Homo sapiens: one gene and its partner. The protein of the gene in region 1 interacts with the protein of each later gene in a pairwise test. Each region holds a gene or a part of one and is shown in the gene's direction. Other genes may lie near its edges. The genes, in order: SSH1 and YWHAB.

Region 1 (3,767 bases):
AGTGTTGATCTCCTGGGCTCCAGCAATCCTGCCTCAGCCTCCCAAGTAGCTGGGACCAGAGCCACACACTGCTGCACCCAGCTAAATTTATTTATTTATTTATTTAAAAGATAGGGTCTCACTATGTTGCCCAGACTGGTCTTGAACTCCTGGTTTCTGATGATCCTCCTGCCTCAGCCTCCCAAAGTGTTGAGATTATAGGCATGAGCCACTGTGCCCAGCCCCTTCTAGGTAAATCTCTATGGGGTGCCAAATTTTGGTTAAGAATTGCTTATTGAATATTAAAAGTTTAGTGGGATGCTTCTTTTTTTTTTTTCTTTTGAGATGGAGTTTAGCTCTTGTTGCCCAGACTGGAGTGCAATGGTGTGATCTCAGCTCACCGCAACCTCTGCCTCCTGGGTTCAAGTGATTTTCCTGCCTCAGCCTCCCGAGTAGCTGGGAATACAGGCATGTGCCACCACGCCTGGCTAATTTTGTATTTTTAATCGAAATGGGGTTTCTCCATGTTGGTCAGGCTGTTCTCAAACTCCCAACCTCAGGTAATCCACCCGCCTTGGCCTCCCAAAGTGCTGGGATTATAGGCATGAGCCACCGCGCCAAGCCACAGGATGCTTCTAATAGTGTTATCAAGCTATAATGCAGCCCTCTCTGTAAAATGTTTTAAAAACAAATCACTGAGGGTCATGGTTCAAGACACTGTTCTCTGGCAAGGTTGAAGATAGCTAACAAATTCTCTTTGGGTTCCAGCCATGAATGGGGTGGGATGGGCCCCAGCAATCTGTATGTTTCTGAGATTCCCTGGGAATTCTGATGGCCAAGTTTAGAAACCATCAAAATAAGAATATGATGCAACTGAGTAGGCTCACGCTTTGCTAATTACATTGCACACATGCTTTTTGGAGACAACACCCACACTACCCTAACAATGTGTGTTCATAAAACTCATCCGATACTTATTTGTTCAAGGCCCTAGGACAATATTCCTGTAATGGGCTGCTTTTGCCCTGATTTCCTCCTCAGAGTAACTGTCTCGCGGTTGGGCACGATCCCAGATCACATCTACAGTGGAGGTGGTTTTGCTGGGGAGGATCCGCATGCTTGTTTGTGTTTATGCCTGGGGAACCCCCTCTTGGCAAGATGTTCGGGAGAGGCTCCAAAGGCAGCACAGAGGACGGCTTGGAACTTAGGGGGATTCACTTTATGGTAAAGAAGCCCTTTCTAAAGGAGAGCTCCACCCAGGAAACACCACCCACCCACGCATCCTTGCCTCCTAAAACCAGGTTATGTTTATCACATACCTTCTATGTGCTTTACATAAAGAATCCCCTGGAATTCTCCAAACTGGGCATTGTGGTCTGTGATGCATATCTCAAAAGAGGTGAGAGGGTTGGGCACGGTGGCTCACGCCTGTAATCCCAGCACTTTGGGAAGCCAAGGCAGGTGGATCACTTGAGGTCAGAAGCTCAAGACCAGCCTGGCTCACATGGTGAAACGCCGTCTCAACTAAAAATACAAAAATTAGCCGGGCATGATGGCGGGCGCCTGTAATCCCAGCTACTCGGGAGGCTGAGGCAGGAGAATCGCTTGAACCCAGGAGGTGGAGGTTGCTGTGAGCCAAGATTGCACCACTGCACTCCAGCCTGGGTGACAGAGTGAGACTCTGTCTCAAAAAACAAAAAAAAGAAAAAAAAAGGTAGAGGAGAGTCCTTTTTCTAACTTTCTTGAACTCTTTGGACTACCTTGGGATCCTTCTATTAACTGCCTTGTTGGCATTATTCTCAGTTTATGAAAAAACAGGCCCACAGAGTGGAAGTAATTTGCCTACAGGTACATCTAAAAATTGATGAAGCCAGATAGGAACTGCTCCCTCATCATCTGAAACCCTTCCCAGAGCTGTCTCTCCCACCCCAGAAGTAGAAAGAAGCCAGACAAAGATGCATCTTGATCTCCCTTGTGGTTTCAGCAAGGAAGCAGATGAGTTGGAGATGAAGCCCCCAGCCCCTGGGAAATTGGACCCACTTCTTGCTCCAAAGGCTATTGGGGTGACACAAGGTGTGTTTCTTTCCCGTAGATCATATTCACCATATTTTGCCTTTAAATGGAAATTGTGCATCCTGAAGTACCTTGTTAAGAGTCCATTTTCAACCTGAAATTCCTTTTTTTTGTAAACCACTTCAGCAAATACAGTGTGGCATTTACATTAGCAACCTCCCAGCCTAGGAGAGGATGCTCCAGCATCCGACTCTAAAAGACAAATTTGGGCACGGTGGCTTGACGCCTGTTATCCCAACACCTTGAGAGGCCGAGGCAGGCAGATTGCTTGAGCCCAGGAGTTCAAGACCAGCCCAGGTAACATGGTGAACCCCCATCTCTACCAATAATACAAAAATTAGCCAGGCATGGTGGTGTGCCAGTGGTCCCAGCTACTTGAGTGGCTGAGGTGAAGGATCTCCTGAGCCTGGGAGGCAGAGGTTGCAGTGAGCCGAGATCGAACCACTGCACTCCAGCTTATGCAACAGAGCAAGACCGTGTCTCAAAAACAAATAAAAATAAAAGATTTTAAAAAGACAAATTATCCCACAAATGGTACATTGTGGTGGTGGTGGTGGTGGTGGTGGTAGACCTCCCTCTTGCTCTTGAAATTGGATCAGAACAAACTGACAATGCTACCTACTTCATGGGGTCATTGGTGAATTCACTGATAATGCATGCAAATCCCCTTCTGCCTGGCACACTACCTAATAAATAAATGGTGGTTGTTATTGTTGGAATTGGAGGATATATTCCTAGTTGCAAGGGTTTCACATGTATTACCAAGTTAATCCTCACCGCAGATATGATTCTGTTTTACAGAGGAAGCAGTGGATGCTCAGAGAGGTTAGGTAACGTGGGTCAGGGACACACAGCCAGGAAGGGGCAGAGGCTGGGAGTGCCTGACTCCAAATTCATGCAATTTCTACCCCACCATCTTCTCCCCAAGGAAAATAGTCCCTAATGCATGTGTGCAATGCTTAGAGGGCAGTAGATGCTCAACAGATGCTGAGAGAGTGAGGGAGTAAATGAGATATGCCATGAAAAGGAGCCCCTGTGGACTTATGCGTGCGTTTGTTTAACTTGTGGGCAAGTACTTATAGACAGGTGCAAACAATAAATCTCCTTTTGCAACTGAGAACTTGTTGTTCAGTATGAGTTTTGATACATATAAGAAAGGCTATTATGATACCTAAGACAGTTAACTAAGGGAGGGAGTATTGATAACCATAAGTGTTAGTTGCAGGCTGGGCACAGTGGCTCATGCCTGCAGTCCTCTCACTTTGAGAGGCTGAGGTGGGAGGATTGCTTGAAGCCAGGAGTTCAAGACCAGCCTGGGCAAGAAAGCAACACCCCATCTCCACAAAACTTTAAAAGTTAGCTGGGTGTGGGGGCATGTGCCTATAGATGTAGCTACTCTAAAGGGGAGGCTGAGGCAGGAGGATTGCTTGAGCCCAGGAGTTGGAGACTGCAGTGAGCTTTGATGGCACCACTGTACTCCAGCCTAGTCAACAAAGTAAAACTTGTCTCTTAAAAAAAAAAAAAAAAACAAAAAAAAAGGTTCTAGGACTGTAGAATCATTAGCTTAAAAGCATAGGATTTGAGGGAAAACCTCAGTTATATTAATTTCGTATTCCAATTTCATGTTGACTTGATTTTTTATAAAGATCTTTTTTAAAAAGGAGCCCCTGCTTCATTTGCCAAAGCTTGGAACGTTTGGGGACACCCATGACTGG
Region 2 (3,820 bases), on another chromosome or scaffold:
AGGCATGAGCCACCACACCTGGCTAATATTTTATTTTTTGTAGAGACAAGGTCTTACTATGTTGCCCAGGCTGGTCTTGAACTCCTGGTCTCAAGCGATGCTCCAGCTTTGGCCTCCAAAAGCACTGGGATTATAGATTGATCTGCCATGCCTGACTGGAAGAGTGAATTACTCTTTGAATTTCAGAGGGCACAGAAATTCAAGAAACTAGGTACAAATGTAATGAAGATTTAATATGCTTGTGAGGCTAATAGGTGCTTTGAATTATTTGAGAAAAGGGAGAACTCTACCAACTCTGCAGTTTTATGCTTACATTTCAGGATCAGTTTGTTCATTCAGCAGATATTTGTTCCTACCAATTATGTACAGGATGCTGTGGGAGATATGTCCAAAGGAGCTTATGGTGTAGGAAGGGAAATAGGAGACACTATGTAAGTAATTTTAGTACTGAAGAAACGTGGTAAGACATTGACAGGTATCAGCGAAATGCTTTGTGAGAATATATTCATTAGAGCAATGCCGTCCCATAGGAATAGAATATAAGCCACATGTAATTTAAATTTTTCTGGTAGCTGCATTTAAAAATTTTTTTAAAGTGAAATTGATTCTATCTGTTTTTACTTAACCCATTATGAACAAAATATGATTTCAATATGTGGCACTAGCCACATTTTAAGTGAATAGCCACATGTAGCTATGGCTATGGCTTAAACAGCTTAAGAAAGGCTTCATGGAAGGGATGGTATCTGAGCCACACTGTGAAGAATCTTGTATGCAGAGTAAATTTGGGAAAAGCCATTCCAGGTAGAGGGAGTGGCTTGGTGAGCAAAGATAGAAAAGCATACTTTGTATGTAAGAAAACCATTTTGGCAGAAGCACATATGATGTGGAAGGCATGATGTGGGGGTCTGGAAGATAGGTTGGCAAGCTTTCACTGATAGGGGAGGAAATCTGACTCTGCTTTTGGCATCAGGGAACTTTAAAGAATTTTGAGCGGGAAGTGACTTGAGCAGAGTTATAGGAAAATGGGTCTTACAGCAAAGGCATGGAGGGGGCTGTAGATAATGAGTGACTGAAAGCATTGCCACTAGGGCAAGATTTTGGATGGGAGATTTATTGTAGATGTAGAAATAGGAACAATTTCATTTCTCCTTTGCTGCCTTCCTCCAAACTGCTGGGTGTTGTGTAACCCATTTCCTGTTGAAATTGGTCTAGTTGCTTCAAAATCCATGTTATATAAGTCAAAAGTTATGTAAGCAGTAGCCATCAGGACCTTTAGCTATGGATTTTGTTTGTTGTAAGTTGTTTCTGTATGTGTATAATTAAAAATATTTGAAACAGATAAATGGATACAGATTTTAAAAAGGTGTGCATTCAGTCCTTATCTTGCCATGATGGTTCTCAATCTCTAAGAAATCTTGCAGTAATCTCGGAGAAGCTTAAAATAGCTGACCCCAAACAGAAAGGGTGCATTTTATTTTGGGAAATAGGGAAGGCATATTTGGGAGGTCCCACTGAATAGTCCAGATTCTTTGGAGTAGTATGATTTAACTTTTAATCCTTGAGAAGGAGAGAAGTAAAAGGGGGATAGCTTAATTTTGGGGCCTAGTAGAGCTGAAGAGGTTGATGGCATTATTTAGCAACGGCAATCCTTTATTACTCCATTATGATACCACATGGGATGGCTTAGCTCTGAATTGGCTTTTGGCCAGTACTTTATGATTTGGAGTAATCCACAGGTAGAGTTGCATAGGTACTGTTCTATGAACTTTGAAGTGGGCCTCTAAGTGACTTCTAACTTTGAGTTAGTCTACAGACTGGAAATTTTCTGAAGGTTGTTGGGTCATTGAAAGTTGGCTTCTTTCTGGTGTACCTGGCACTTTTAGAAACCATGAAGTAGGGTTATTTAATGATGAAGATATTTATTGTCCTGATCTCAAAGACCTTATGGTCAAGAAAGTTAGATATATGAAGACAGTGGTCATCCTTTGGTATCCAGGGGGTGTAGGTTCCAGGACACCTGGGGATACCAAAATCTGAAGATACTTGTTTATTTTGTGTTTTTTTCCTTCTTTATTTTCCACCACGGTTGGTTGAATCTGTGTATCTGGAACCTGCAGATATGGAGGGCCAACTATATATACTTTTAAGATGGTAGAGTATTTTTGATGTACTTGTATTAGAGTAGAACAGGTTGTCTTGTGGTAACCAACAGCTCCAGCATCTCAATGTTTTAACCCAGCAAAAGTTTCTTTTGTTTTCACCCTGCGTGTCCAATGCAGGTCTGCAGGAGTCTTGCACTATACAGTCACCCGGGGACTCAGGCTGACAAAAACTCTACAGTTGCATGACTGTACCACCTAGAATACATGGCCTTCTCAGTGGCTGCTGTGAGGGAAAAGAGCCTGGGGAGGCACACGTAGGATATTCACAGTGTTAGCCTGGAAGTAGCGTCATTTCTACTTATCTTTCATTGGACAGAACTACCATGTGGCCTCTTCTGACTGCTGTGGGGGTTCTGGGAAATAGAAGGGAACAAATGGAATGTTTCTTGAGGATTACTCTCTCTGCCTTAGTTTTATTCTAGTGTTGTGAGTGAAGATGTCAGATGGATCAAAGTGAGACTTGCCTCACTGAGTGTAAGCTTACAATTAGTGAGCCTTATATAAGACACAGCTCTGCATGTGATTTAGATAATAAGCAGTAGGAAGAAAAATTATAGTTATGAACTGGAGAATCAATTCTTTCTGAATCACCTAGATTTTGAGTGTATCTTATTGTGCTCCCTAAAACATTTTTAGGTGATAAGGCCCTGTGTGTAGAATTTCTCTCTTGAAAATACAGAAATGACTTTTGAGGCAAAATCATTTTGTGAGTGGAGGTCATACTTTCTTGTTTTTTTTTTCCTTTTTTTTTTGAGATGGAATCTTGCTCTGTTGCCCAGGCCAGAGTGCAGTGGCGCGATCTCTGCTCACTGCAACCTCCGTCTTCCGGGTTCAAGCGATTCTCTTGCTCAGCCTCCCCAGTAGCTGGGACTATAGGCACGTGCACTGTGCCCAGCTAATTTTTTGTTTTTTTAGTAGAGACGGGGTTTCACCGTGTTAGCCAGGATGGTCTCGATCTCCTGACCTCGTGATTCACCTGCCTCGGCCTCCCAAAGTGCTGGGATTACAGGCATGAGCCACTGCGCCCAGCAGAAAATGGTTAATTTAAAAATAGCAAAGAGGCCAAGTGCGGTGGCTCACACCTGTAATTCCAGCACTTTGGGAGGCCGAGGCAGGCAGATCACCTGAGGTCAGGCGTTCAAGACCAGCCTGAGCAATGTAGTGAAACCCCACCTCTACTAAAAATACAAAATCAGCCGAGTGTGGTGGTGCATGCCAGCAGTCCCAGCTACTCGGGTGGCTGAGGAGAATCGCTTGAACCCAGGAGGCAGAGGTTGCAGTGAGCCGAGGTTGCGTCACTGAACTCCAGCCTGGGTGACAGAATGAGACTCCGTCTCCAAACAAATAATCATTTTCAGAGCCTTAAATTGTGATACCATGTATGTAGTAATGAAAGAATTTGTTTTGAAAATACTGGCATTGGCTAGGTGCAGTGGGTCACGCCTGTAAGTCCCAGCACTTTGGGAGGCCAAGGCGGGCAGATCACCTGAGTTTAGGAGTTCAAGACCAGCCTGGCCAAAAATGGCAAAATCCCATCTCTACTAAAAATACAAAAGTTAGCTGTGCATGGTGGCACGTGCCTGTAATCCCAGCTACCTGGGAGGCTAAGGCAGGAGAATCACTTGAACCCTGGAGGTGGAGGTTGCAGTGAACCG

The links.
Region 2: the proteins of SSH1 (region 1) and YWHAB interact in binary tests that used the Homo sapiens proteins (3 or more experiments, as listed by UniProt).

Annotation. Positions count from the first base shown.
Region 1 is NC_000012.12:108,777,593-108,781,359, reverse strand, and holds the end of SSH1 (protein phosphatase Slingshot homolog 1), read left to right. Parts: 3' UTR 1-3,169; downstream 3,170-3,767. UniProt on the Homo sapiens protein: Protein phosphatase which regulates actin filament dynamics. Dephosphorylates and activates the actin binding/depolymerizing factor cofilin, which subsequently binds to actin filaments and stimulates their disassembly.
Region 2 is NC_000020.11:44,895,610-44,899,429, forward strand, and holds part of YWHAB (14-3-3 protein beta/alpha), read left to right. Parts: intron 1-3,820. UniProt on the Homo sapiens protein: Adapter protein implicated in the regulation of a large spectrum of both general and specialized signaling pathways. Binds to a large number of partners, usually by recognition of a phosphoserine or phosphothreonine motif.